Linked DNA regions of Homo sapiens: region 1 is linked to region 2. Evidence: fine-mapped expression QTL. A gene starts in region 2. The other region holds a variant in brackets. All regions are shown on one strand. Distances are between the middles of the regions.

Region 1 (12,575 bases), 63 kb after region 2:
TGAGAAGCACTAGTTTTGGTTACTTAGTTAAAACCCCCGTGACAGAGTACTTTAGGGGAATGTGGATTAAGGGTTACTTAAATATTTGGTCATGTCCCTAAAAAGTGATCGTATTATTTCTCTTTTAGTAACTCTTAACATTTCCACCAATAGTCTTTATGTCTATGCATCCTTGACCATCTATTTTGGCAGATTTCAGAGGAAATGCCATGTGTAGAATTATTTTATCTGCTCAAGGCCTGACTAAAGTTGAAAAATAGGAATTCTTTCTTCTGATTATTCCTCTACAAATAGAGGATGTTATATTTCCAAATTACTAGGGCTGGAGGGAAAAAACACAAACTGACAAGGAAGAACAGCATTGCAGAAATAAGCTCCAATGGCTGGCTCTAGAAGACAGAAGGAGGCATTTCCACTACCACATAGAACCAAGTGTCTGATAACACAATAGTAAAGAAGGAGCTGAAGTAAAATAAGACATTGAAACTTCAATAGCAGCAGCTCCCTGGATTGCTTTCTAGGAACTAGGCACTTTCTGTGCATTGTCGTGACCCTCCTAACAATTCTATTCTATCCCATTCTACAGATGAGGAAACTGAAGCTCTGGCTACAGAGGCTATACCCTTTCCTATCTTGATACACTGGCAGCTGCCTTCTATCTACTTCAGCCCAACACTATCATGTGGGAAAAGAAATACCCTCTTACCTTGAGAGCCCACTCACAATCCACCAGTGCCTTCTCATAGTCCTCAAGTTTCATATAAGCCTGTAATGAAACCAACAGCTGATATTCACACACAATTCTGCATCAGGCAGTTTTCAGTTCACACAGAAAGAACATTCGAACAGTAGAATGTCAGCGAGAACTATCCCCTACCTGGATCAGTCATGGTCCTGCCAGGAAACAGATGGCACACTTGCACTGGGCAACTGAGGAGAGTTGAATACAGGGACCTCTTCCACGGTGAAGGCAGGGCTTAGGGAACCTGACAAGGGATGCTACAGAATCGCAGGGCTAGCAACAGTGGACAGCCATTACCACTGCTGTAATGGAAGGGGCAGAAGGAGGGAGCAATGAACAAAATGTGGGAGGACAGCTCTGCGAAAAGAACTGCCTGACATGAGCTGAGGCCTTCACCAGAGCCGAAGGCCAGGAGAATAAATACCCCAATCTCACTTTTCCTCCTTCCTTCTCATTTTATTGGCTGAATGCAAATGGAAGCTAGAGGGCTAGGAAGCCAAGGAGCCAGTCCACACAGGTCAGCCCTCCAGGGCACAAAGCAGGGAAGGATCTAGAGGGACAGAGAAAATACCCAGCTCACTAGCCACATCCAAGAAGGAAGAGCTGGATTCTGGAGTCTACCCTGCTGTGAATGTTCCAGAAAAACACCAAATGATAAAGGGGATAAAAAAGACAGATAATTAGAGCTCTCATACACTGCTGGTGGGCATTAAAATGGCACAGCCCATCTGGAAGATAGCCTGGAAGTTCTTCAGAAGGTTAAATATGTTACCATATGACCCAGTAATTTTACTCCTAGGTATATACCAAAGAAGAATATAAATATACATCCATACAAATGCTTACACATGAATGTTCATAGCAGAATTATTCATGATAGTCAAAAGGCAACAATCCAAATGTCCATCAGTGATGAAGGGATACATAAAATATGGTATATCCACACAATGGAAAATTATTCAGCAATAAAAAGAAATGAAGAGGAGTTGATACATACTATAACATGGATGAATCTTAAAAGCATTACGATAAATGAAAGAAGCCAGTCATAAAAGGACAAATGTATGATTTCATTTATATAAAATGTCCAGAACAGACAAAGGTATAGAGACAAAAAGTAGATTGGTGATTATCTTGGGCTGGGAGTAGTAATGGGAGGATTGGGGGAGTTGACAGTTGAAGATGGAGCTTTTTTGGGGGATGATGATGAAATGTTCAAAAATTGATTGTGATGGTTGCACAACTCTGTGATTATACTAAAATTCCATTAAATTGTGTACTATAAAAGGGTGAACTGTATGGTATGTGAATTATATCTCAATAACGCTGTTATCAAAAGATAATAAAGCTCTGCTTCTGTCCTCCCGAGCACAGCAGAAAAAAAAAATGAAAGAAGTAGAGTGACATATGAGAGTCAGAGCATCACCATGAAGCCTTAGTATCAAATGCCTGGGGCACTCTTTTAGAATCCCCTAGAATTGGGGAAAATCTTGAAAATCAAGAATTGACTCAGAATTCCGTGATCCATTCAAACTGAACTGATTGAGAACTTAGTTCAATGTTTCTAAGGACTAGAGGAATATAAACAAATGAAAGACTATAAACAAGCACAATGGCTACTATAACCTCTCTATTAATTACTGGACACAGTAAGTGGTCAATAAAGTCTTATCAAATTGCACTAAGTAACTCTGAAGCACTCTTCTTCTGGAAAGCTCCCTGAGAGGCAGCATCGATCATCCCATTTGTACGAAAGGATAGCCAAGCACCAGGAGTGGTGGCTTTTCCAGGGTTCCATCAGCAACCAATAATAAAGCCAGTACTACACATAGGATTGTCCATGATCAAAACTGTACCAGGGCACTGCAACACAATCTTAACAACGAACCTCATGAGATACTTACATGGACAAGCCAATTGTGGGGTCAATGTTGCAACTCACAGGGAATCCAAGTATCCAACCCAAGTGAGGAGGGAGTAGGCAACAGCCAGCAAATGAATTGAAATCATGCCGCTCTTGGCTCCCATAGCAAGGAAGCTGCGAGTGGTGCTTTCATTAACTCATGTTCTGTACTAATTAGAGAAGACGACTCTTTGAGCTATCTGTTCTGTAAAGCATCATCCTTTTCTCCAGGGTCTCAGGTTTCATTTGAAAATTAGAGGATGTGAAGAGGAAGCTGGCATCATTCTAGACAGCTGTGGCCATGATTTCATGGCACTATTATTTAGGATACATGCAGACTCTGAAGAAGTCTTTATGGGTTCCAACAATTTCTCTACACAGCCTTTTACTTTTTTTTTTCTTTCTCTCTTAAGGCTTGGATTAAACACCCTATAACTTCCTCAATCTCTTTTGCTTTTGCACATTTTAAAAAGGAACTACTTTTTCCAAACAGCAATTAAACTCCAGATTTATCTAAATTATACCGGCAATCTATTGATCATAACATTAACTCCAGGGGAAAAACAAAGCAATGAAAGGTTAGGTTTTCTCTCTAGCAAGCAACACTCAATTTACAGGGTCCTTATTAAGTGTTTTCTGACACTGCATGCATACAGGGGAAGCATTTTAAAAATAGTCAATGGTTCAAACGGTTTGTAACACCAGGGAGCACATTGTCCATTATTTTGTCTCTGCATAAGCTTTCTCCTTGGGAAAGCTGAGAGGAATCACTCCCTCAAACCTTTTCATTACATTTCCTTATATTTATCCACATTCATTCTTAATGTGATTCTTCAGAACTAATCAAAGTGCTGCTTAAAAATGAGTGCAGTGAAAATATAATTTAGATGAATCAGAGTATAGACAGTCTGAATTAGATATGTCTGAAATTATATAACTTTTTTAAAGCAATTCAATTTTGTTGCTTTCAAATAATTTCAGAGTAACACAACTGAATAAGCATCAGTAGGCAGATGTTTTTAGAGACCAAATTTGGTAATAAATAAGAAGGAACTATAATTATTCTATTAATTGCTTGCATTTAAGTGATGCCTCTGAATTGTCAACAGAAACTTAACTCCCTTAATTGGACTTATTGTGCTTTTAACGTTATGTAACTAAAAAAGGATTTATTGAACATCTGCTATAAATAAAGCATTAGGGGAAAAAGTATATGGCAGTTTTTGCCCTCAAAAAGTTTATAATCTTGTTCGGGTAATGCAATGTACTGCTAAATCAACCTCTGGCCATCTTTTTTACCGATTCACTTCCTTATAACAAGTTTTCTCCAAAATTGGGATAGTTTAAATGACACTTCAACTCTAGTCTAACATATCCAAATTGCTAAACTAGTGAGATTATACTGCTTGGATTTATTTATCATTAAGTCACTGTCACTCCCCATATGTTTCGGCTTCCGAATGTCCTGTTTCTTGCTTCCAGTCCTCTTCCTCAACATCCCAGAGCCAGACATTCTTAAACTCGAGTTAGGGAAATTAGAGCTGATGAGGACTCTGCTGAGCCTCTCCCTCTTGCAAATGACAGGGCATCAAGTCCACCTCACACAGGTCCTGCTGACATATTCTGACCATGGGGTAATCATGTCCATGAATCTGCCAATTTTTCAGGCCTGTCCAGCAGAGAACTCTACCACACAAAAACTAAACTACTTTTCAAAGATAAGGTCACAGGTGATGGTTTTGTTTCAGTTGAGAGCTATCAGCCTATCCCTTCATTAAGTAGTAAATAAACATCTGGGTGGTTTTTACCTGGTGTTCCAGGAAATTGAGCTCATTTGTGACATATACTAATGCATAAAAACCTTCAGAAACCCAAAATTTCCAAGAAATTGGCTCCAGGACCATTGGCTATCCACTTTATCCCTGTCGCAGAATCTTAAAGAGAGACTGATACAATGAATGAGAAACTAACAGGTGGGCATCCGCTAGGAGTTAAGACTAGTACCAAAAAAGGAGGCTGAAGAAATATGTTGGTAGCAGAATTCTAAGGTCCCATAGGTCATTTCATTCCACTAGTTTTCTCCTTTATCCACAGGGACAAGTGCATGGTCACCATCAGTGATATGATGGAGCTGACTTATACTATGGAGAGAGCTGATAATGGACAGCTCTTCCCAAGTCCTCCTGCAGTGATTCCAAATTAGATCATGGTGAGAATATTTGCATCATGGAAACTGGTAAATGCTGTGTATAAGTCAGCTCCTCCCACACTTAAAACAAGAGCCAGTTCTTATAAACATTTCCCAGCCCAACATCTAGCCTCATCTTTGTTTTCCCAAGTTTAGTGGCAACTATTCCCTGAGAAAGCCCCATGGATACATCCCTGCCTCACTGACCTGGGCTCGGTTGGTGTACAGCACTTTCATGTCCTTCAGCTTCTCCAAACCCTCACTGTAGCGCAGGATAGCTGTTTCATAATTGCCTTCAGCAAATGCTTCATTCCCTTTTTCTTTTAGGGCTATGGGAATATAAGTTACACAGGTGAGCTCTCACCACACATCAGAAAATCTCTCAGACTTTATTCCCCCGATTTTCCAATTCTATTTCGAAGGTCTTCACTTCTATCGATCCTAAAGGGACTTGACACTTGTTTTTTTCTGCAGATACTTCAGGACCAGCTTCTTCAAGTATTTTTTTTCCTCCAAATCCACCCATGTCTTCTAAGTAGATTCTCAGAAAAAGTAAATGTTTCTGCATTGAGGCTGAGAACCATACTAAGCTTGCCACAGAGACCAAATCTGTGCATTCGGTGTCTCATAAAGAGGGTCAAATAATTAATTTTCCCAACAAATATGGAATCATTCAGACCTGCAGCACACACAGCCCTGGGTGGTATAAAATAAAAGTGAAAACATTCTTCTATCATATGTATCTCCCTGCAACATACACAATCCCATCCCTTCCTTTTCCTTGATGTCTCCTCTCCTATCTCACAGCTGTTTTATTTTTCTTTTCCACTTCTTCATCTATGCCTTAGGCTAGCCAGTGGCAGCTCACTCTCACCCCCCACTACTTCCTGAGCATTGTTTAGTACAATTCACTTTGCTCTGCTAAGTGCACAGGGAAGCTTCAGAAAGAGGTTTCACTGGAGGTAGGTGTATCCTACCCTCTGCTTGTTGCAGCAGGAACAGAGAACAGACCATCAATGATTTCCTTCTGGCCAGGTCCCACTGCCTCAAGCCCATCACAAACCTCACCACTGGGAATCTAGATGTCCTCAAATGTCAGCATACAGGCCTTCGTGTGCTCTTTCTAGCACAAATCATCCCAGCCATTGAAAAGTAAGGACTGACAATTACCATCCGCCAAGACTTTGTTTTCCCTTCTTCTCTTGGCTCGTTCCTTTGCATCCTTCTCCACAGATGCCAAGAAGGCCTCTGACAGCAGGGTAATTTCAGATATTAAAAAGAAAAATCCAAATACTATAATCAGTTCTTTAGCTCAAATTCGAAGTGTTACTTTAGAGCCACACGTATGCATATGCACACAGGCACACACACGCACACACACCATTCTGAGGCAACTAAAATGACATTTTCTTCATTTGACATTAAATGGTAATCTGTGTGATGCATTATTACACATGATGGCTATGACTGTGCTTCAAATTTGAATTATGTCTTTTAAAAGAGTTTTTCTTTGAAGAGAGATTTTTTTGTTCCGTTTAGCATAATGAGCTTCTGAGCTGAGCAACAGAGAAACTATCTGGATCCCTTGAACAGGGTAAATTGGATGATACAGAATAACTGAATTGAGTTTACAAAAGGTTGACCAAGAGAAAATAAAGAAAAACCTCTCAGGGACATTCCCGCTGATCACTAGTAACAGAATGGGATGATCAGTAGGTTTTTGTTCACAGGTTGTTTGTAAGCTCAAAGGCAATAATTTAAGGGTCTGGGAGCTACAATCAATCAAAACTGGTCCTATATAAAGAATGAAAATTGGGAAGAGAGATGCTGTCCTTACCTGAGTTTATTTCTTCTGCACTCTGTAGACGTAGGTTACCATAAAAACAAAGAAACAAATTTCAAAAACCACTCTAATTTATATGTATATAAACCAAGAAGGCAAATCAATTACAAACAAGAGGTCATTTCTTTTAACCATCAAAACTGAAGGGCTCAGAATTCATGGGGCTTGCTTTAAATCAGGAGATCTGAGTATGGGCACAATTGCTATGGGACCGAGTCTGCAAAACAAGGCTGCCCAGGTCAAGGGACCTCAGCTGTGGCTTATGAGTTGGAAATGAGTTAGAATACATTACCTTAAAGGTACAGCTTAAATATATCACACAAGCTCAGGGGGTGGAGAGGGGAAATTTCCATTAAAATAGATCCAAAGGGTTGTTTAAAGATAACCCAGAAAGATCAAAGGAAAAAAAAAATCAAATTTTATACTTTCTTATAAAAAATAAATCTAAGAAACAAAAGACCATTTCAGCCTTGCTGGACAGTTTGAGATTAAACTACTGCCTAGGTGTAGGTCTTCTCACTGTAAGTACTTATATAACTTCTCAATAGAAAAAGAAACCTTCATAGCAGTTTGTGGAGGACTGATCATAGTCTTGTTCAAGGTGGTCCTGCATTCATCCTCCTCCTGGTCTTCCTCCATAAGCAGTAGTCTCTTTTCTGTCTCCAGGACAGCTTTCTGTTGCACAACTGGGTCATCAGAATTCATCTCCTGAATTAAATTGGCTAGAGAAGAAATCAGGTGTGACTTAATCAAACAAGATATTCAAAA[G/C]ACTCTATTCACTAGAAAGGATGGTGCATAAAATGCATGGGAAAGATCTTAAAGAAAAAAATAGAGCAATAGAAAGCAAAATAGAGCAAGCAGAACCAATGAGAAAAAATTAACAACAGGTTTTTTTTTTTTTTTTTTTGCCTAGAAAAAGTTGCAGGTGAGTATAGCTATTAGCTTTAAGGAACAGAGTTTTAAGCCATTATTCAATTCAACAATAATTTATGGAGAGCTCATTATGAGTTAGATATTATGCTGATGCTATAGATAACAATGATGAATAAAAAAAGATCCTTTTTTGAAGAGTTTATGAACTTGTGTGGGAGACAAACATGTAAGTACAGGCAGCTCAAAATCGCAAAACAGCAGCCCTTAACCCTATCCTCACCTGTCTTCACTTTACTGCTTATCCAGCTTAGATTCCATGGTCAATCACTCAGCAGCCATCCTGCCCATATACTCAACTCCCTTGCCCTGCTATCTCACCTAACAGACAAAATTCCAGCTCTACATAATTCCAATTACCCAATTCTACCAGTCTGCATTAGGAATGCTATGTACTGAGGGAGACAGATAGATGCCTGGGGGACTGGTCCAAACTCAAACTCAACTGGACCTTCAGTGATGCCCAGCAATCCTTGTTATCCTGGGCAAGATATCCTGTCACTCCCCCAATGACTTTTAACAGTTTGCAATCTAAACCTGACCATCTCAAAAAGATGCCCTTATTTATCAATTCAGAGAGGAAAGAGATGCCATCGACTTCCTGCTATTAAAACTACAAAACTGCCTATACCTACATCCATCCTTCCTTACTACCAGGAAAAGGTGCCCATTCTTCTGTAAGGTTAGTCCCTCATCCTGGGCCCAGGATTCCATTGTCATATTTTGCATAATCAGGAACGCTGCATCACCAATTAATAATCCTATTGCGCAATATTTTCAACCTATTCCATTCGACCAGCTTCCTTCTAAATTATGTACTTTAAATCTCTCCTAATGCTCTGTCTCCTCCCCTTCACAATTAAACTTCTTAATTCATTTTCCTGTTCTAATTTCTTCATTTCCCACTGAGTCTTCAAGGAAATTATAAATTTTTAATTGTACAATATTTCAAGCATACCGAAAGTAATATAATATTTTTGTTTCTATGCCATTTATAAGTTGATGGTATCTTTTCTCCAGCATGCTTTAATACTTAGTATTTGTATCATTTAGATTTTGCTGCATCACACACCACATCAAAACTTAGTGGTTTGAAACAAACCACCATTTTTGTGGCTTAGTTTACAATTATCTATGTCAACAATTTGAGCTGAATTCAGCTGGCCAGTTCTGGTTTCAGCTGGACTCACACATATATCCATGGTCAACTGTCAGTCATCTAAGTGGCTCTGCTTTAGAAAGTCTGCTGGCTGTTGGCTTGAGAAATGCAAGCAACCCGGGTAAGTGTGTCTTACTTTCTCATGAGTGGTATGAGTGCAAGCCCTAATTCAAATGCACTTTTCAAGCCTCTGCTTGTGTCATGTTTGCAAACATCCTTTTGGCCAAAGCAACACACATGGCCAACCCAGATTCAAGTGGCAGAGAAATAGGCTCCACTCTTGATGGGAAGAAAGGAATTTGTAACCATTCTTGCAATCTACCAGAATATTTGTGTATGTAATATTTAAACAATTTTTTAAAATAGTTGTATAAAATGTGCATTCATTTGCAACCTACTTTTTTCTCTTAAGATGCTTTAGAGATGTGTTCTTGATACACATGGTTCCAGTTGATTCATTTAAACCATTATATATACCATAGTTAATCCATTCTCTTATTGATAGCCAGGTGGTTTTTCAGTTTTTTCTAAAGTAAATAAATGCTGAATTGAATACCTGTATGTACATATTTCCTTGTGCACATGTTACATATCCTTCAGGATATGGCTGTACCAATTTTTACTCCTACAAAAGAGTACAAGAGGAAGTTCCCATTCTTCTACATTCTTATCATCACTTGCTGGGTTAAACTTTTTAATTGTTGTCAATGTAATGGATGGGAATGGTATCTCATTGTTTTAATTTGCATTTCGCTGAATTTGATTGGAATTGAGCATCTTCTTATTGATTTGCACCCATTTGGATTTCTACGAAGAGCCTACTCCTATCCTTGGCCAATTTTCTATTGGGTCATTGTCTCTTTCTTATTAGTTAATATAATTTCTTTTTTAAAAAATTCTTTTTTTTTTAAGAGATGGTCTTGCTATGTTGTCCAGGCTCGATTTGAACCCCTGGGCTCAAGCGATCCTCCTGCTTCAGCCTCCTGAGTAGCAAAGACTACAGGCACACACCACCATGCCTGGTTGATTTGATTGTGAAACAGGGGAGTTCTCTGATCCCCCTCGCAGGACATGCGACAGGGGTGTGGCTTGCCTGTTTAGTCACCACCACTGCTCAAACCCCTGAGGGGAGGGGGAGAACGCAGACGGACAAGTGCAGGAGCCCAGTTGGGCACGTGTTACAGCGTGTCCTTTTAGCCCTGCCATCTGCGGACGACTTGATTGTTAACCAGCTTGACGGACATCTGCCTTTTCACAAGGGCAGAGGGAAGTGACAGCTTTTTGTATCCCGAGCTCTTGCCCAGCATCCCCGGAAGAATCAGGTCACACACAGGACTAAAGGATGAATGTGGGGTTTTACTGAGTGGTGGAGGTGGCTTTCAGTGGGATGGATGGGGAGCTGGAAGGGGGAATGGAGGGGAAAGATGATCTTCCCCTGGAGCCTGGCCATCCAGTGGCCCAACTCCCCTCTGGCTGCTCCCAGCCAAACTCCTCTCGGCGTTCAGACATTCCTCCTCTTTTCTCTACTGTGTCGTTCTGCCATTTGTCTGCTTGTGTCCTCATCTCACCTGCTCGTCTGCTTCTGGAGCCTGGGGTTCAGAGTTTACATGGGCACAGGATAGGGGAGCATGGCAGGCCAAAAGGCAACTTTTTGGGCACGAAAACAGAAATGCCTGTTTCCACTTAGCGCTGCAGATCTCCCGGCTTGAGGGTGGGGTCTTTGCCAGGGAACCACCCTCTTCTATCCACTATTCCCATCTCCTACCCGTATCAGTTGTATATATTCTGGACTGGTTACATGTATTTCCAAACATCTTCCCCTTGGGTATTCTTTGTCTTTTCATTTGTTTTTATGGAATATGTTGTTGAAGAGATTTTCTTTTTAATTTTAGTGTGTTAAATATACCATCTTTTCCTTTACAATTTAGGTCTTTTGTGTCAGTAAGGTTATAAATATACTCTCTTATGGTGTCTTATAAAAGTTTTAAAGTTTTTTTCTTACTAAGGTATGTAATTCACCTAGAGTTGACTTTCACGTAGGGCAGGAGCATTATTTGTTGAGAAGTCCCTGCCAGCAATGTGTCTCATCATCCCTGTTATGTGTGCAAATCTTCTCCAGGCTCTTCATTCCTTTCCCCTGATTGTCCTTTCCAGCACGAAAACCTCCATGCATTGATTACTATGGCTTTATAATAAATCTTGAATGTCAGGTAGGGAAAGTTGTCCTGCTTTTTTTTTTTTTCCTGCAGAGTTTTCTTGGCTCTTCTTGGTCCTTTGCTCTTCCACGTAAACTTTGGAATCAGCTTGCTGAATTTTAGTACATACTACTTTGCGGGTTTTGATCTAAATTGTATTTACTGCATAGAATATTTTAAAAATTGACATTTTTACCAAATAAGTCTTCCTAGGATTAAATACGTCTCCATTTATTTAGCTCTTCTTTCATGTCTTTTAATTAACTTTTTTTTAAATTAACTCAACTGCACACTTTATTCTAATTTCATTGTTTTTTCTCCCTAATGCCCTTTTCCTATTCCAGGATCCCATCCAGAACACTACACGACATTTAGTCATGTCTCCTTAGGCTTCTCTAGGCTGCGACAATTTCTCACCCTTTCCTTATTTTGATGACCTTGACAGTTTTGATGACCTTGACATTCTATGAGTTTGCATAGAATACCTTGCAATTTGGGTTTATCTGGTATTTTTCTCACGGTTAGACTGGAGTTACAGGATTTGGGGAAAAAGACCATGGCACATTATGGCGTATCAGGGATGCATGCCATCAGTGTGATTTATCAGGAGGTTAACCTTGATCATCTATCTGAAATTGTGTTTGCCAACCTTTTCCACTGTAAAGTTACTTTCTTCCCTCCCTTTCCATACTGTACTCTTTGGAAGCAAGTCACTAAATGTATCTCACATTTAAGGGGTAGAGATGCTCCACCTCCTTGGGGGAAGAGTCATTACATAAATTAGATGGAATTGATTTACTGCTCTCGGTAAACACAAATTCCTTACCATGGTTTCCAAGGTCTTTCCTAATCTGGCCCCTCCATATTCAGATGGGACTCTTCTCTCCTTGATCTCTTCTTTCCAGACATTTGGGGCTTTTTATTCTTTTAGTTCCTCAAAAGCACCACACTCTTTCTTCACTCTTAGCTTTCCTACCTCCTTACTTCCCACCCAGGACACTCCCCTGTCATTTTCCCAGTGACCAACTCCGACTCACTCTTCACATTTTGCCTAAATCTCACTTCTTCTGGAAAACTTTATTTAATTTCTGTTATGGACTAAATTGCATCCCCCCCAAAAATTCACATGTTGAAGCTATAACTCCTGGTATGACTGTATTTGTAGATAGGGCCTTTAAAGAAGTAACTAATCATTGCCCTAATCCAATATGACTAGTGTCCTTGTAAGAAGAGAAACACCAAATATATGCACGTACAGAGAGATGACCATGTGAGGGCACAGCGGGAAGGTGCCCATCTGCAAGCCAAGGAGAGAGGCCTCAGAAGAAACCAAACCTGCTCACACCCTGGTCTTAGATTTCTAAACTCCAGAACTCTAAGAAAATAAAGTTTTGTCATTTAAGCCAGCCAGTCTATTTTGTTACAGCAGCCCTAGCCGACTAATACAACCTCCCAAAGCTGGGTTAGATCCCTACACTTTGTAATTCTCTGTGTCTCATATTGCATACTTGAAATTACTGTTTAATATCTGTTTTCTCCACTGGACTATTAATACCATGAAAAGAATAATTCTTTGACTGTATTCTCTAGGCCTTACCAACACTCAACACATAGC
Region 2 (12,575 bases):
AGAAGCCTCAGGAGCTTGCAAGGTAGTGGAAGAGGAAAGAGAGACATGAAGCAATACTTAGCAGGCCGCTTAGATTTCAGTACAGCAGCAACAAGGCAGGAAGTAAAGGAGTTTGCAGGTTTAGGAGCCAGTCCATTCTGCAAAGGTGGCCACAAAAAAGCAGGTATCACAGTTTGCCCTTTATTCTAGTTGCTTGTTTCTATGTTTATCTCCCCTAGTAGATTTTGAGCCCCCAGAGGACCAACATGATGCCTCATGCTTCTGCTTCAAAACATCATTTATTACCATTTAAATTATGGAAGTAATACATATACCTTGTAGGAAACATAGGGAATATAGAGAGCTATATAAAAGAAAAATAAGTTACCAGGGATGCAACCTTCCAGAGCTAGCCTCTGTTGATATTTTAGTATATCCTTTTACTATCCACCTTCAAGGTATCTCTTTCCCTTTCTCCCTCTCTTTCACTCCTTCTTTCTGCTCTCTCCTTTTGGATCACATAGTATGTGGAGCACGAGCACTTCCCCACACTGCTGTTCTTCCAAAGCATGATCTTTAGTGGCTGCACACTATTCCATTTTATGGATGAACTGTAATTATTCATCTCTATAATTCCCAAAGTGCATTGCCATGCATTGCACAATACATCTTTGTTGAATTGGAACAGAAGTCGAAACTTAAGGGAAGGCCTTACAAAATAAGCATTTGCAAACCCTGTTGCTCATTTCACTGTATGTGCCCACAGAACAGTAAATATGAAAATTGTTATAGATTATTTTGGGATTGCAGGGATGGGGATTAAGGAGAAATGACATATTTGAGAGCACAGTATTTGCAAAACTGTGATGGTGCTGTAGTCAGAGACTGCTGGCAATGTGCTCCCGGGGTCTCCCTGGGAAGCCAGCTGGAGAGCCCCAACCTTCAGGAAAAACCACATGCTCTTCCTGGCATCTGGACATGTTGGCTAGTGTAGGTTTCTCCTATTCTTGTTCACTTGTGCCAGAGATCCCTTCTCCACCTCTGTGATATTTTTAATCTGTCTTCTCTCATCCTCTTGGGTTCACAGGAACCAATGACATCTGCCATGGCATGGAAAAAAGCATGGGATGTGGGAATCACACTGCCCTGATTTCAAATCCCAGTTTCACCCGTTATTATCTGTATGACCTTGGGCAAGGGAATCCTCTGGGCCTCAGTTTCTAAACTAAAAACTGGGAATAATTGTAACTACCTTGCACAGTTCTTTCATAGCTTCCTACCCAGAAGTCTTGAGAGCATTTACTGCTGTCTCTCCTCTTCATCATCTTGCTGCACCCACTTTTGTCTAGTTTCTGGTACCTGCACTCCCCTGAACACCTGTGGCTAAGGTCACCAACAGCCTCTATGTTGCTATATCTAACCAATAATTTTCAGTTCTCAGTGTATAGTTCAGATCTCTGACTCTTTTTCTTGAAACTTCGTTACTTGAGCCACGTGTCAACATTCTCCTGCTTTTCTCCTACTTGTCTGGTCACTTCCTCTCTGTTTTCTTTGCAGGCTCATATCCTGTTACTTGACCACGGGGCTTAGTCCAAGCCCTTCTTCTCTGCTCTTCTCCCTCTATAATCTTTCTATAGTCAACCTCATCATCTCCAATTGGATATTCAATACCAAATGTGTCTGAAGCTAACCTCCTGATTTTCCCCTGAAACCTGCTCTTCCTTTAGTTTTCATCATTTCAGTGAATGGGGCCTCTGTCCTTCTAGTCCTCAGAATAGGACCCTGGTGTCATCTTCGACTCCTTTCTTCCTCTCACTTCCCACAGCCAAGTCTTCGCAAATCCTGCCAGCACCACCTTCAAAATACTGTCGAGCAACAAGCTGACCACTTCTCACCACCTCTCCCCCAAGGTGCATCTCAGCCCAAGCCTCCTAATTGGACTCTGTTTCTCCCGCTTCCTCTCCACAATCTATTCTCAACCCAGCAGCCAAAGTCATATTTTAAAATCTAAGTCACAACATGTCACTGCCCTTCTCCAATGGCTCTCCTCATTCACAGTAAAAGCCAAAGTTCTTTCATGGCTGAGAAAGTCCTACAAGATTTGTCCCCAATGCCAGGCATAGCTTGCTGACCTCCTTTCCTAATCACCCTCCTCTCATTGTGCCCCTGGCACACGGGCTTCCCACTGTTCCTCCACCATGCCCAGTGTGGTCCCACCTCAGGACCTTTGCACCTGTTGTTCTCTCTGCCTAGAACACTCCTCCCTAACAGAGCCACATGGATTACCCCTTCATTTCCTTCAAATCTCTACTCAAATGGTACCTAATTAGTATGGATTTCACAGAGAAGTCTACATAAAAAAGCAACCCCATTCCAACTCTTATATTCCCCATACACAGAGGGCCCTGGCATTAATATTTTTAGACCAACCCATTTCTTGGAAAATCAGACTTCTCAACCCTTCTTAGATATTTTAATCAAGAACTGTCAGGTGGTCATGAGTGCTATAGCTAAAAAGTTTATTATTCATTTGCTATTTATTTTGTCTTCCTCCTTTAGACTATAAGCTTCATGAGGGCAAGGACTTTGTTTTTTTCACGTAGTGCTTGGAATGAATGCATCTCCTCCATGCCTTTTTTTTGCTTTGTTTTTTTTTTTTTTTGAGACCAAGTCTCACTTTTGTTGCCCAGGCTGGAGTGCAATGGCATGATCTTGGCTCACTGCAACCTCTGCCTCCTGGGTTCAAGCAATTCTCCTATCTCAACCTCCTGAGTAGCTGGGACTACAGGTGCCCACCACCACGCCCAGCTAATTTATGTATTTTTAGTAGAGATGGAGTTTCACCATATTGGTCAGGCTGGTCTTGCCTGACCTCAGGTGATCCACCAGCCTTGGCCTCTCAAAGTGCTGGGATTACAAGCGTGAGCCACCAGGCCCAGCCTGATGCCCTAGTTTTAATGACCACTTATAACAAATGACTCCCAAGTTTTAATATTGTTAGCACCAACCTTTACTCTGATGTCCATGACAACTCTTCTTGGTTGTTTAAAGGCATCTGAAACTCAACAGGTACAAAGCTGAACTCATGATCTTCCTCTCCAAGTCTAGGCCTCTTTTCATAGTCTCTCCATTAATTGTCAACACTGCCATTCAATAAATATTTATTGAACACCAACTCTGTGCCAGGCACAGGAGACAGAGCTGTGACCAAAACAGACACTCTCATGGAGTGGACATTTTAGTGGATCCTCCATTCCTTTGGGCAAGCCAGACATCAAGTTAGCTTTAATACCCCTCTTCCTCATCGTGATCCTCCCCATGACTAATCCAGCACCAAGTCGGGTGGATTTTTACCTTCTAAATATGGCTTGACCCATTCCTTTCCTATCTCCACTACCAACACTCCACTCTAGCCCCTATTATCCGTCTCTCATCAGAATGAAGATAACAATCTCCTAACTTAACCAGAATCCACTCTACCCCTCCCAATGCATTCTCCATACTGCAATTCTGATTAATCCCTCCCATGGTCACCACCGCTACCTGGTTGTAAATGCTCAGTGGTTTTCCACTGCTCTTTTACTCTCCCAACTCCAGCCATCATGGCCTTTTCCCATCTTTGTACTTACCATGCCCCTCTTGCCACAGATTCTTTGCACACTCTGTTGTCTGTTCTTGGAAAACTTTCTCCTCCTCACCTACTTAACTTATACTCATTCTTCACATTTCAGCTGTAGTGTAACTTCTTCAAGGAAGCCTTTTCTGATATCAGTCAAACTTTCTGTTAATGAGCTCTCCTAGAGCCACAAATCTCCCCTTCTTAAGCTTCTCACAGTAGCACATTTACATTTACATGTGGGGTTATCTGGTTAATGTCTTCCTCCCCCTAGGCTGCAATCTCCCGGAGAGAAAGGACACATCTGTTGCATTCATCGTTAATCCCAGGGTGTAGAACAGTGCCTGACACATAGTAGAAGAGCAGTAAGCATTTGTCAAGTGGATGAATGAATGAATAGCTGGAAAGAGGATCTAGTAAAGTAATGCACGTAAAGCTCCTAGTATAGTAATCCATACATACTAAGTCTTAATTACCATTAATTATCTTACCCCCTCCACCCAGGGAATTCCCAGAACTTGGGAAGGGAAAGTGGCAGGAGTTAGCATCAATGTCTCACAGTGTAATCATGTCACTGCCATCTGTTTCCTTTCGTTCTATATTCAAAAGGCTATAAATGATTTAGACAAATCCTAGCATACTCTGACCCTCCTCCAAAACCAACAGGCAGATGTTGAGGGAGGAAGGTGAGTGGGCCTTAGGCGATCTTATTTTTCCTCTCCTCATAAGGTGGGGGAAGGCCTGGGAACTGAGTGTGTGGCACCTGAGGCTGTATCTTAAGAGTTTGCATGGTAATCCTAGAGAACCACAGATAGCATCCAAGCCAGATGCCAGTCAGAGAGACCCCCGTCCCGGACTCTCTAATTGATGTCCCAGAGCCTTGGGAGGAGGACATGGTTATCATGCTCAGGTTTAACATCCCGAGTGTCTTCTTCATGGCTGCAAGGTGCAAGCACACAGCTAGTATATGCAACTCCAGTGGGAATGAGACTGGATTCCAAATCAGTGGGAAGACAGAGAATAATGGAAACGTAGGAAAGAGGTAGGAAGAGAAAAATAGGGGCATGTCAAGGCGTCGCTGTAGTGCGCATGACAGCAAGGGACAAAAACAAAAACAGAGATGAGAGAACTCCAGACTTGACCCTCCAAGGGCCTGGACAGGCCATCAGGCCGGGCAGTCTCCATCCCCTGACCTCCTCAGCCTGCACTGATTGGGAGGGGCCTCCTCCCTCCCGCCACCGTGGGAAGAGAGAACATGATTCCCTGCAGATCTGAGCAAAGTGCCACAGCCTCCCAGGATGCTCAGCCCTGCCCTGAGAGCTGGGGTGGGTAGGAGGATGGCAGAGAGCGGTCAAGAGCAGTTATTGCCACAGGACACCGGGGGAAGAAGGCGCTGGAGAGAAGGATGGAAGCAGGCAGGACAAGTTCGGAAGGTCAGATGGGATAAAGGCGTCTTTGGTAGGTAGTTCCCGCTTGCCTTTGACCTCTGTTGAGTCTACAAACAGGTATTATGTGCCAACTCTATTTTGGTTAGGGAGACAGGTATGGGTGTGCCTGGGAGGCTCAGGCTACTGGGTGGAATTCAGAAATACCGCGGGGGACAGTCCTCAGCCCCAAACTCAGCCCACTCCTTCCTCGCAAGCTCCCTGGGCCCAAAGCTTGCCGGGCCTCAGTTTCTCCTCCGAGAAAGGGGAGGGCGAGGCTGGCAGTACCTGGCGGCGTCGGGTGGAAGGCAGGGGGCGCACTTGATGGCGTACTCCGTCCGCCAGCGCCTGTGCCGCGCCTGGAACACCTGGCTGAAGCCGCCGCTGGCCACTAGGCGCCAGTCGCCCTCGAAGTCGTCGCGGGTGAAGACGGGGAGGCTGCCCAGCCGCAGCTCGGTGGGGTCGGCAGCCATTGCCCCTCTCTTCCTGTCCCCGCGCCGCGCACTCCCCGCTGTGGCTGCTGCCTGGGTGGCCGAAGGAGCCGCCGCTTCCTGCTCCTCGGGTCCGGGAGAGGGGAATGGGGAGACGAGCCGGCCCTGCCTCCTTCCCCGCCCAAGAGGAGCCGCTCCTGCCCCGCAAAGGTGGGGAAATCCCAGACATGAGCCCTGAGGCCCCAGCAGGGATGGAGCGACCTGGGCCTGGGGAAGAGGGTATGTCCCTCCGAAGCCCTCGCATTTCCCCTGTCTCAGCCTTTGATTTTCCCCAGTTCCCCCTAGGGAGGGATGCTGGGAGAAGGTGTCCCGAAGCTGGAAGAAGTCCAGCCTGAGAAGTTGGATCCAGTTTATTTAGGCCCAGCGCTAAGTGAAATCGGTTTATGCATTCCTTCAGTGCATTCAAGGTTTTATGGTTTATGAAGGATTCAGGCCTGGACCCCTGCCCCTATCCAGCAAGTATGGGGCTCAAACAATTTTAATGGGGATTTTCTGGTCTGAATCTGTTGGTCTGACTGGTTTCATGTTTCCTTTGTTCTTGTTGGGGTTTTGTTTGTTTGTTTGTTAGCCAGCCTTGGTGTGCTATAGGTTACCAAGGAGGGGTCAGCAGGGACAGAGTTGCGGGGGAGGCTGGGCTCCTGTCTGCAGGGGACTCCCTTCCTGGGCTGCGCTCTATCCAACCTCAGAGGGATGGACCCCAGCCTCGGGGTGGCCACGGGGGAGGTGGCCTCCTTGGCGCAGTTACTAGGGGCAGTTTGTTGCCAGGGATGAGAGGAGGCTCTAGCTGGAGCCTGACCAGTGCTGAGCTTGGAGGTTCCCCTGGGTCCTGGGTCCATGGGATTGCCCTCTCACCTTGGAGACCCTCAGAGCAGGGAAAATGACAAGTGCTTGAACAGACAGGTCTCCCCAGGGGCACTGACCAAGTGGGCCATTGCCCAGAGACAGGCATACCTGGAGGAACTGTGGCCACGGAGTGCAGAGTCAGCCACTATTTGCCTACAGCTGAGTAAGTCCACAAGGAGCCCTCAGAGTGATCACTGTTAGGTTTGAGGAGCCTACCTACCAGACAAGGAAGTGCCTTGCCTTCAGCCCAAACCTGCAGAGCCCCTCGTCCATGCCACAAGCCCACCAGACTCCCAGGGAACAGTGTAGGCATGATAGGCAAACAGAGACTCCCTGTGGAAGCTGGAGAACTTGCTCCCTCTGTAACAACTTACCTGCAACTTCCAGGATGAATTCTGGCAAGCAGATTAAGGATCAAAGATTGGGCCTGGAGACAGTTGTCATAGAAACTAGTGATAGCCACTACTAATTGAACACTCACTTTGTTCCAGGATCAGTGACTATTTCAGTTACTGCATTGCTTTACATATATTATCCTGTTTATCTTGCAACAATGTTATGAGGTCAACATCTTCTATTCACAGATGAGGAAACTGGCTTCAAGACAATAAGTAATCAATGGACACATAGCTAGTAAGTGGTAGTTGATATTCAAACTCAAGTCTCTTAGTTTCTATGGAAATGGTTGGCCAGGGGAGGATCAGGGAGTAGCCTTTTATGAATACAAAAAAGGAAGAGAGAGAGTCATGCTCCCTGGAAGAGGGTGGAGATGATGGAAACTGCATCAGGAGCAGGACGTATCCCCCAAACATATGTCAGAGGGAGGCCCCCAGCTTGCTTTGGCTGGAGCAAGACAGGGCATAACAGAACCCATTGTCTCTGGAGTAGCCCTGCCTGCCCAAGTTTAAAGCCTCTGCCAGAGAAGTTTGGAAGGTGATAAAGGACATTGTCATCAGGGAGACCAGGAGGTCAAGAGGATGTTTCATACCTTCTACTGGGAGGGTGAACATGGAGACTGGGAAGGTGACCAGCCACCCAGCTCTGCGGAAGTTTGACTGAGGCCCGATCTTTGACATTCAGCGAGACCTATCTCAGCTCCTGGAGGAAATACCAAGGGTGAATGGCCTGAGTCATTTCAGCAGTTCCCCTTGATCCACTTATACCTGAAGTGGCTCTCCAGGGAGAGGAAGTAACCAGAAGCTGCCATTGTCTGCCTGCAGAGACTGTCACAGGAATACTGAAGAAAGCATCATTCCTAGAAGAGGGGACACCCAGGGCTCAAGGCATGTTGCCAGAATCCCGAACAAAATACCTCTGAATTTCTCACAGGGGTGGAGGTGGAGGAACTGCAGGGTCAGGGCGTATTACTGCTGACCCACCTGTTGAAACTCTCTGCTGTGGGTTCAAGCACCCCTGAGGCTTCTGAGGAGTCAGTCAAAATAGATACATTCATTGACCCAGAGGGACTGGATCATTTGACTGGGCTTGTCCTGCTCCTTACAGCTGTCTAACATGGGCTAGGGCAAAGGCCTAGTAGTCTTTGGATAAGCTCTGGGAGAAGTTGTAAGTGGAGGGACCCTTTCTGAGTATAAGGTCACAGAGGCAAAGAACTCCTGGATCTCTCATTAAAAGTGGGGTGAGGTATAGGGATTTGCAAAAGAGTAAAGTCAACTCAGAGGCTGCTGGTTTCTTTCCAGTGGTCTGAGTGCAGAAGTCCCTAGGTCCTGGCTGGTTGGGAAGTCAGCAGCCAGTGTGTGGAGGGGAGAGAGCTGGGGGGTTGGGAGGGAAACTCTACCTTTACCCATATCTACCTACAAATGGGAATGGATAATGAAGTGGTTATAGTCCAATTATGACCCCCACCCACCAGAAGGGGCAAGGAACAGGTTCTAGCTATAGAAGTTTTACCCCAAAATGCTCTGAGTCCTTCCAACTAACCTCTATCAGTGCATTTTGTTTGGGCAGATTGAAGATGGAAGTGTTCTGGATTTGGAGTTATTAAATGAATTTTGTGTGTATGTGTGATTGTCTTTGGGGAACCTAAGATTTTTAGCCTGCTCCTCCCAGACAAGTGAGCTGGTACAGGAGCTCTGCAATACTTTAGAAGATGCTGAAATCTGATGTGAGCCTTTCCCCAAACCGGAATGACAAGCTATTTGCATATAGGGAAGTTTCCCAGTCTGCCCCTGTTCTCCACCCTGCAAACATGTCACGGAGAACCCTGGACAGGTTCTGGCAGGCCCCAGCCTCTGGTAGCTTGTGTACTGAGGTTGGTCAGGATAAAGGAATGTATGCAGGAAAGTGGAACATCTGTTCAGGAAGCAGGACTCCCAGAGTGAAAGGGATTGAATGAGGCAATAGGAACAGGGTTTAAATGTGGGAGTGAGTCAGTCAGTCAGACCCGCATTTAAACCCTGGCTTCTTTCTATCACTTAGCATTTGTTTAACCTTGGTCACATTATCAAATCTTTCTGGGTTTCTCCATCTGTAAAATAGATGATAATCATAATAACCATTCCAAAACATTGCTATAAGAATTATAACCTTTAAAAATATACCTAGTATATTAGTATAATATTATACTAATATAACATAAAAATACAATATAATATCATATTAGTTTAATATACCTAGGATATTTTTAAAGGTTATAATTCTTACAGCAACCTTTTGGAATGGTTATTATGATTATCATCCATAAAATATATCTAAATACTAGGTATATTTTTAAAGGTTACATTCCTTAGGTATATACTAGGAATACTCCTAGGCAAAAAATATGAACCAGCTGATACTTCACACCTGAAAAATTAACTCAAAATGAATCATGGACTTAAATATTAAATGTAAACTTATAAAAATTTTAGGAAAAAAAAAGGAGAAAATATTCTGGACCTAGGATTAGATGAAAAGTTCTTAGGCCGAATCCCACAGGCACAATCCATAAAAGGGAAAATTGATAAACTGAACCTCATCAAAATGAAAAACTCTCACTCAGTGAAAGACCTGGTGAAGGTGAAGAGAAGAGTGCAGATGGGGAGAAAATGTTTGTAAAGCACATATTTGACAAAGTGCTGGTTCATAGAGTATATAAGGAGGTCTTCAAACTCAATGCTAAAAAAGCATCAAATTAGAAAATGGGAAAATACATTTCTCTGAAGAGAATATACAGATGACAAATAAGTTCTTGAAAAAATGTTTAATATCATGAGCCACTAAGCAATGCAAGTAAGATATCACTAACTACCTATCAGAATGGCTAAAAATAAAACTGAAAAGATAGTGGCAACGCCAAATGCTGATGAGGATGTAGAGTAATGGGATCACTCATACGCTGGTGGAAATGTAAAATGGTATGGCAATTCTAGAAAAGAATTTGGCCATTTCTTATAAGACTAAACATATGATTACCATACAACCCAGCAATTGCACTCTTGGGAATCTATCCCAGAGAAATGAAAACAGTGTTCACACAAAAATCTGTATATGAATGCTCATTGCAGCTTTATTTGCAATAGCTAAAATCTGGAAACCGCTCAGATGTCCTTCAACCAATGAATGGCTAAACACACCATAGTGCTGTATTATGGAATAGGACTCAGCAACTACTGATATACACAGCCACTTGGATGAGGCCCCAGAGAATTCTATTGAGTGAACAAAGCCAATCATAAAAGGTTACATACTGTATGACTCCATTTATATTGCATTCTTAAAATGACAAAATTATAGAGATGGAGAACAGATTAGTGGTTGTCAGAGGTGAGATTGGGGGAGAGGCAGGTGGGTGTAGCTGTAAAAGGTTAGTGCAAAGGAACCTTGTGATGAAACTATTCTGTATCTTAACTGTGGTGGTGGCCACATGAATCAATGCATGTGACAAAATTCCATCAAATTAAATGCACACACAGATGCACACACACACACAAATGAGTGCATGTAAAACTGACGGCACCTGTGTAAGGACTATGGATTGTATCACTGATTTCCTGGTTGTAATGTTGTGCTATAGTGACATAAGATGTTACCTTTGGGGGAAACTGGGTGAGGGTATCTCTGCATAAGTTCTTAAAATTGTGTGCTTATCTGTAATTATCTCCAAGCAGAACATTTAAAAAATACAAATAAAGCCCCCTTCTTCTCTTCTTCCTCCTCCTCCTTTTCCTCCTCCTCCTTTTCCTCCTCCTACTTCTCCTTCCCCCTTCTATTTCTCGTTCTTGTCCTTATTACTAGGTAATGTTATATTCTTGGAAGGAAAATATTCCCATAATAGGAGAAAGGCAGTAATCTAACATTTACCACAGAATGCCTTAAGGAACACAGCTGGCCCCCTGTGGACACGTAGAAACCCCAAGGAGAAAGAGAAAGGCCACTGTGTTAAATGTCTGAGGCTGGAGACGATGGAGAGAGGGAGCGAACTAGTTCCTTCTAAGACTCAATTTCTGGAGTTGGCAGAGTATAGATTTTCCTTCCTAATAAGGAAACCAGTCTCTCTTTTGAAGGGCTTTTTGATGAAAAACTACCTTGAGTGTCAAGAAGCCAAAAATGGAAGCCCTGAGTTTCATGAACCATGGTTCTCATTGTCAAAATCATGGCCACAGGTTCTTTATGGTCTTGGGTGATTGTGATTCTGGGCTGGGTCCATATAAAAATAACAAACAGATGTCTCAAGCATCCTGCCATCTCAAGCAGTTTAGAAGAAATGCTTGGCTGTGGCCAGGGCTTCAGAGAAACATCATTCCAACATGGGGCCTTAACAGCCTCAGAGCATGCCCAAGATGTCATGGTCAATACCTTCTCTGGCAGTGTCCAAGAGACTAGGAATGCTAAACTTAACCCTTTTTAATTTAACAAAGAGTCAGTCCAGGGAGATTGAGTCCCTATTACCAGGACTCTAAAGGGAAAATGCCCTCCTTATGTCAACCTTGGTGATCTGGCCATAAATCTATCCTTCTGCTCTCCTCTGGGCCCTTCCTGGATAGGGGGGAGTGAAGGAAAGCTAGGACTAGGGAAGGACTTAAACACTAAAAGGTGGTTTTCTTGGGAACTCTGAAAGCTTGCTGGCTCTGCAGGTAAAGAAAGGGACTTCTAAAATGTGACTAGTGTCATGCTTCTTATAACTTCTTTTTTTTTTTTCTATTTTCCTTACTATTCATGTAGAGTAAGTTTCCTTCCTTCCTTCCTTCCTTCCTTCCTTCCTTCCTTCCTTCTTTCCTTCCTTTCCTTCCTCCCTCCCTCCTTCCCTCCCTCCCTTCCTTCCTCCTTTTCTCTTTTAGGGATGAAGAGTTAGCCAGACCACTTTGGGTACACTAAAAGAAACCAAGAAAAGATTTTGCATGGGAATTATTTAAGTGCCTTGTGGATTCTGGATATTAGACTTTTGCTGGATGCCTAGTTTGCAAATATTTTCTCTTATTCCAAGGTTGTCTGTTTACTCTGTTGATAGTTTCTTTTGCTATGCAAAAGCACTTCAGTTTGATTGGGTCCCACTTGTCAACTTTTGGTTTTTTTTGCAATTGTTTTTGTTTTGTTGGGGGACTTAGTCATAAAGTCTCTGCCAAGGCCAATGTCCAGAATGGTATTTTCCTAGGTTTTCTATGATATTTATAGTTTTAGGTCTTACATTTAAATCTTTAATCCATTTTAAGTTAATTTTTATATATTGAGATAGGTAGGGGTCCAGTTTCATTCTCCTACATATGGATAGCTAGTTATCCCATTTATTGAATAGGGAGTCCTTTCCCCATTGCTTGTGATTGTTGACTGTCAAAGATCAGATGGTTGTTAGGTGTGCAGCTTTATTTTGGGTTTGCTATCCTTTTCCATTGGTCTATGTGACTGTTTTTGTGCTAGTACCATGCTGTTTTGGTTACTGCAGGCTTGTAGTATAGTCGGAAGTCAGGTAGTACGATGCCTTCAAATAACTCCATTAAAAAGTGGGCAAAGGAGGCCGGCATGGTGGCTCACGCCTGTAATTCCAGTACTTTGGGAGGCTAAGGCGGGTGGATCATGAGGTCAGGAGTTCAAGACCAGCCTGGCCAACATAATGAAACCCTGTCTCTCCTAAAAATACAAAAATTAGCTGTGCATAGTGGTGCGCACCTGTAGTCCCAGCTACTTGGGAGGCTGAGGCAGGAGAATTGCTTGAACCTGGCAGATGGAGGTTGCAGTGAGCCGAGATTGTACCACTGCACTCCAGCTTGGGCAACAGAGCGAGAGTTC

Which allele goes with the higher level. Alleles are on the strand shown, and positions count from the first base shown. SD is a standard deviation of normalised expression in the study named.
For the expression in cerebellar hemisphere of the gene that starts at base 5,598 in region 2, C is the high allele of the variant in region 1 and G is the other (large effect, 1.3 SD a copy in GTEx).

What was found. PIP is the estimated chance that this variant, and not a neighbour inherited with it, causes the effect.
Region 1: its variant is fine-mapped to the expression of ANKK1 in cerebellar hemisphere (GTEx, PIP above 0.99).

The regions. Positions count from the first base shown.
Region 1 is chr11:113,318,111-113,330,685 of GRCh38, reverse strand. TTC12 (tetratricopeptide repeat domain 12) reads right to left here. Exons shown (of 22, transcript NM_017868.4): 3 at 7,235-7,398; 4 at 6,671-6,692; 5 at 6,004-6,081; 6 at 5,041-5,162; 7 at 707-766. Among named protein-coding and RNA genes, the nearest start is that of TTC12, 9.8 kb to the right of the region's middle. The variant G/C (reference allele first, on the strand shown) is at 7,445.
Region 2 is chr11:113,380,802-113,393,376 of GRCh38, reverse strand. ANKK1 (ankyrin repeat and kinase domain containing 1) reads right to left here and starts at 5,598. Exons shown (of 8, transcript NM_178510.2): 1 at 5,308-5,598. The coding sequence starts at 5,492.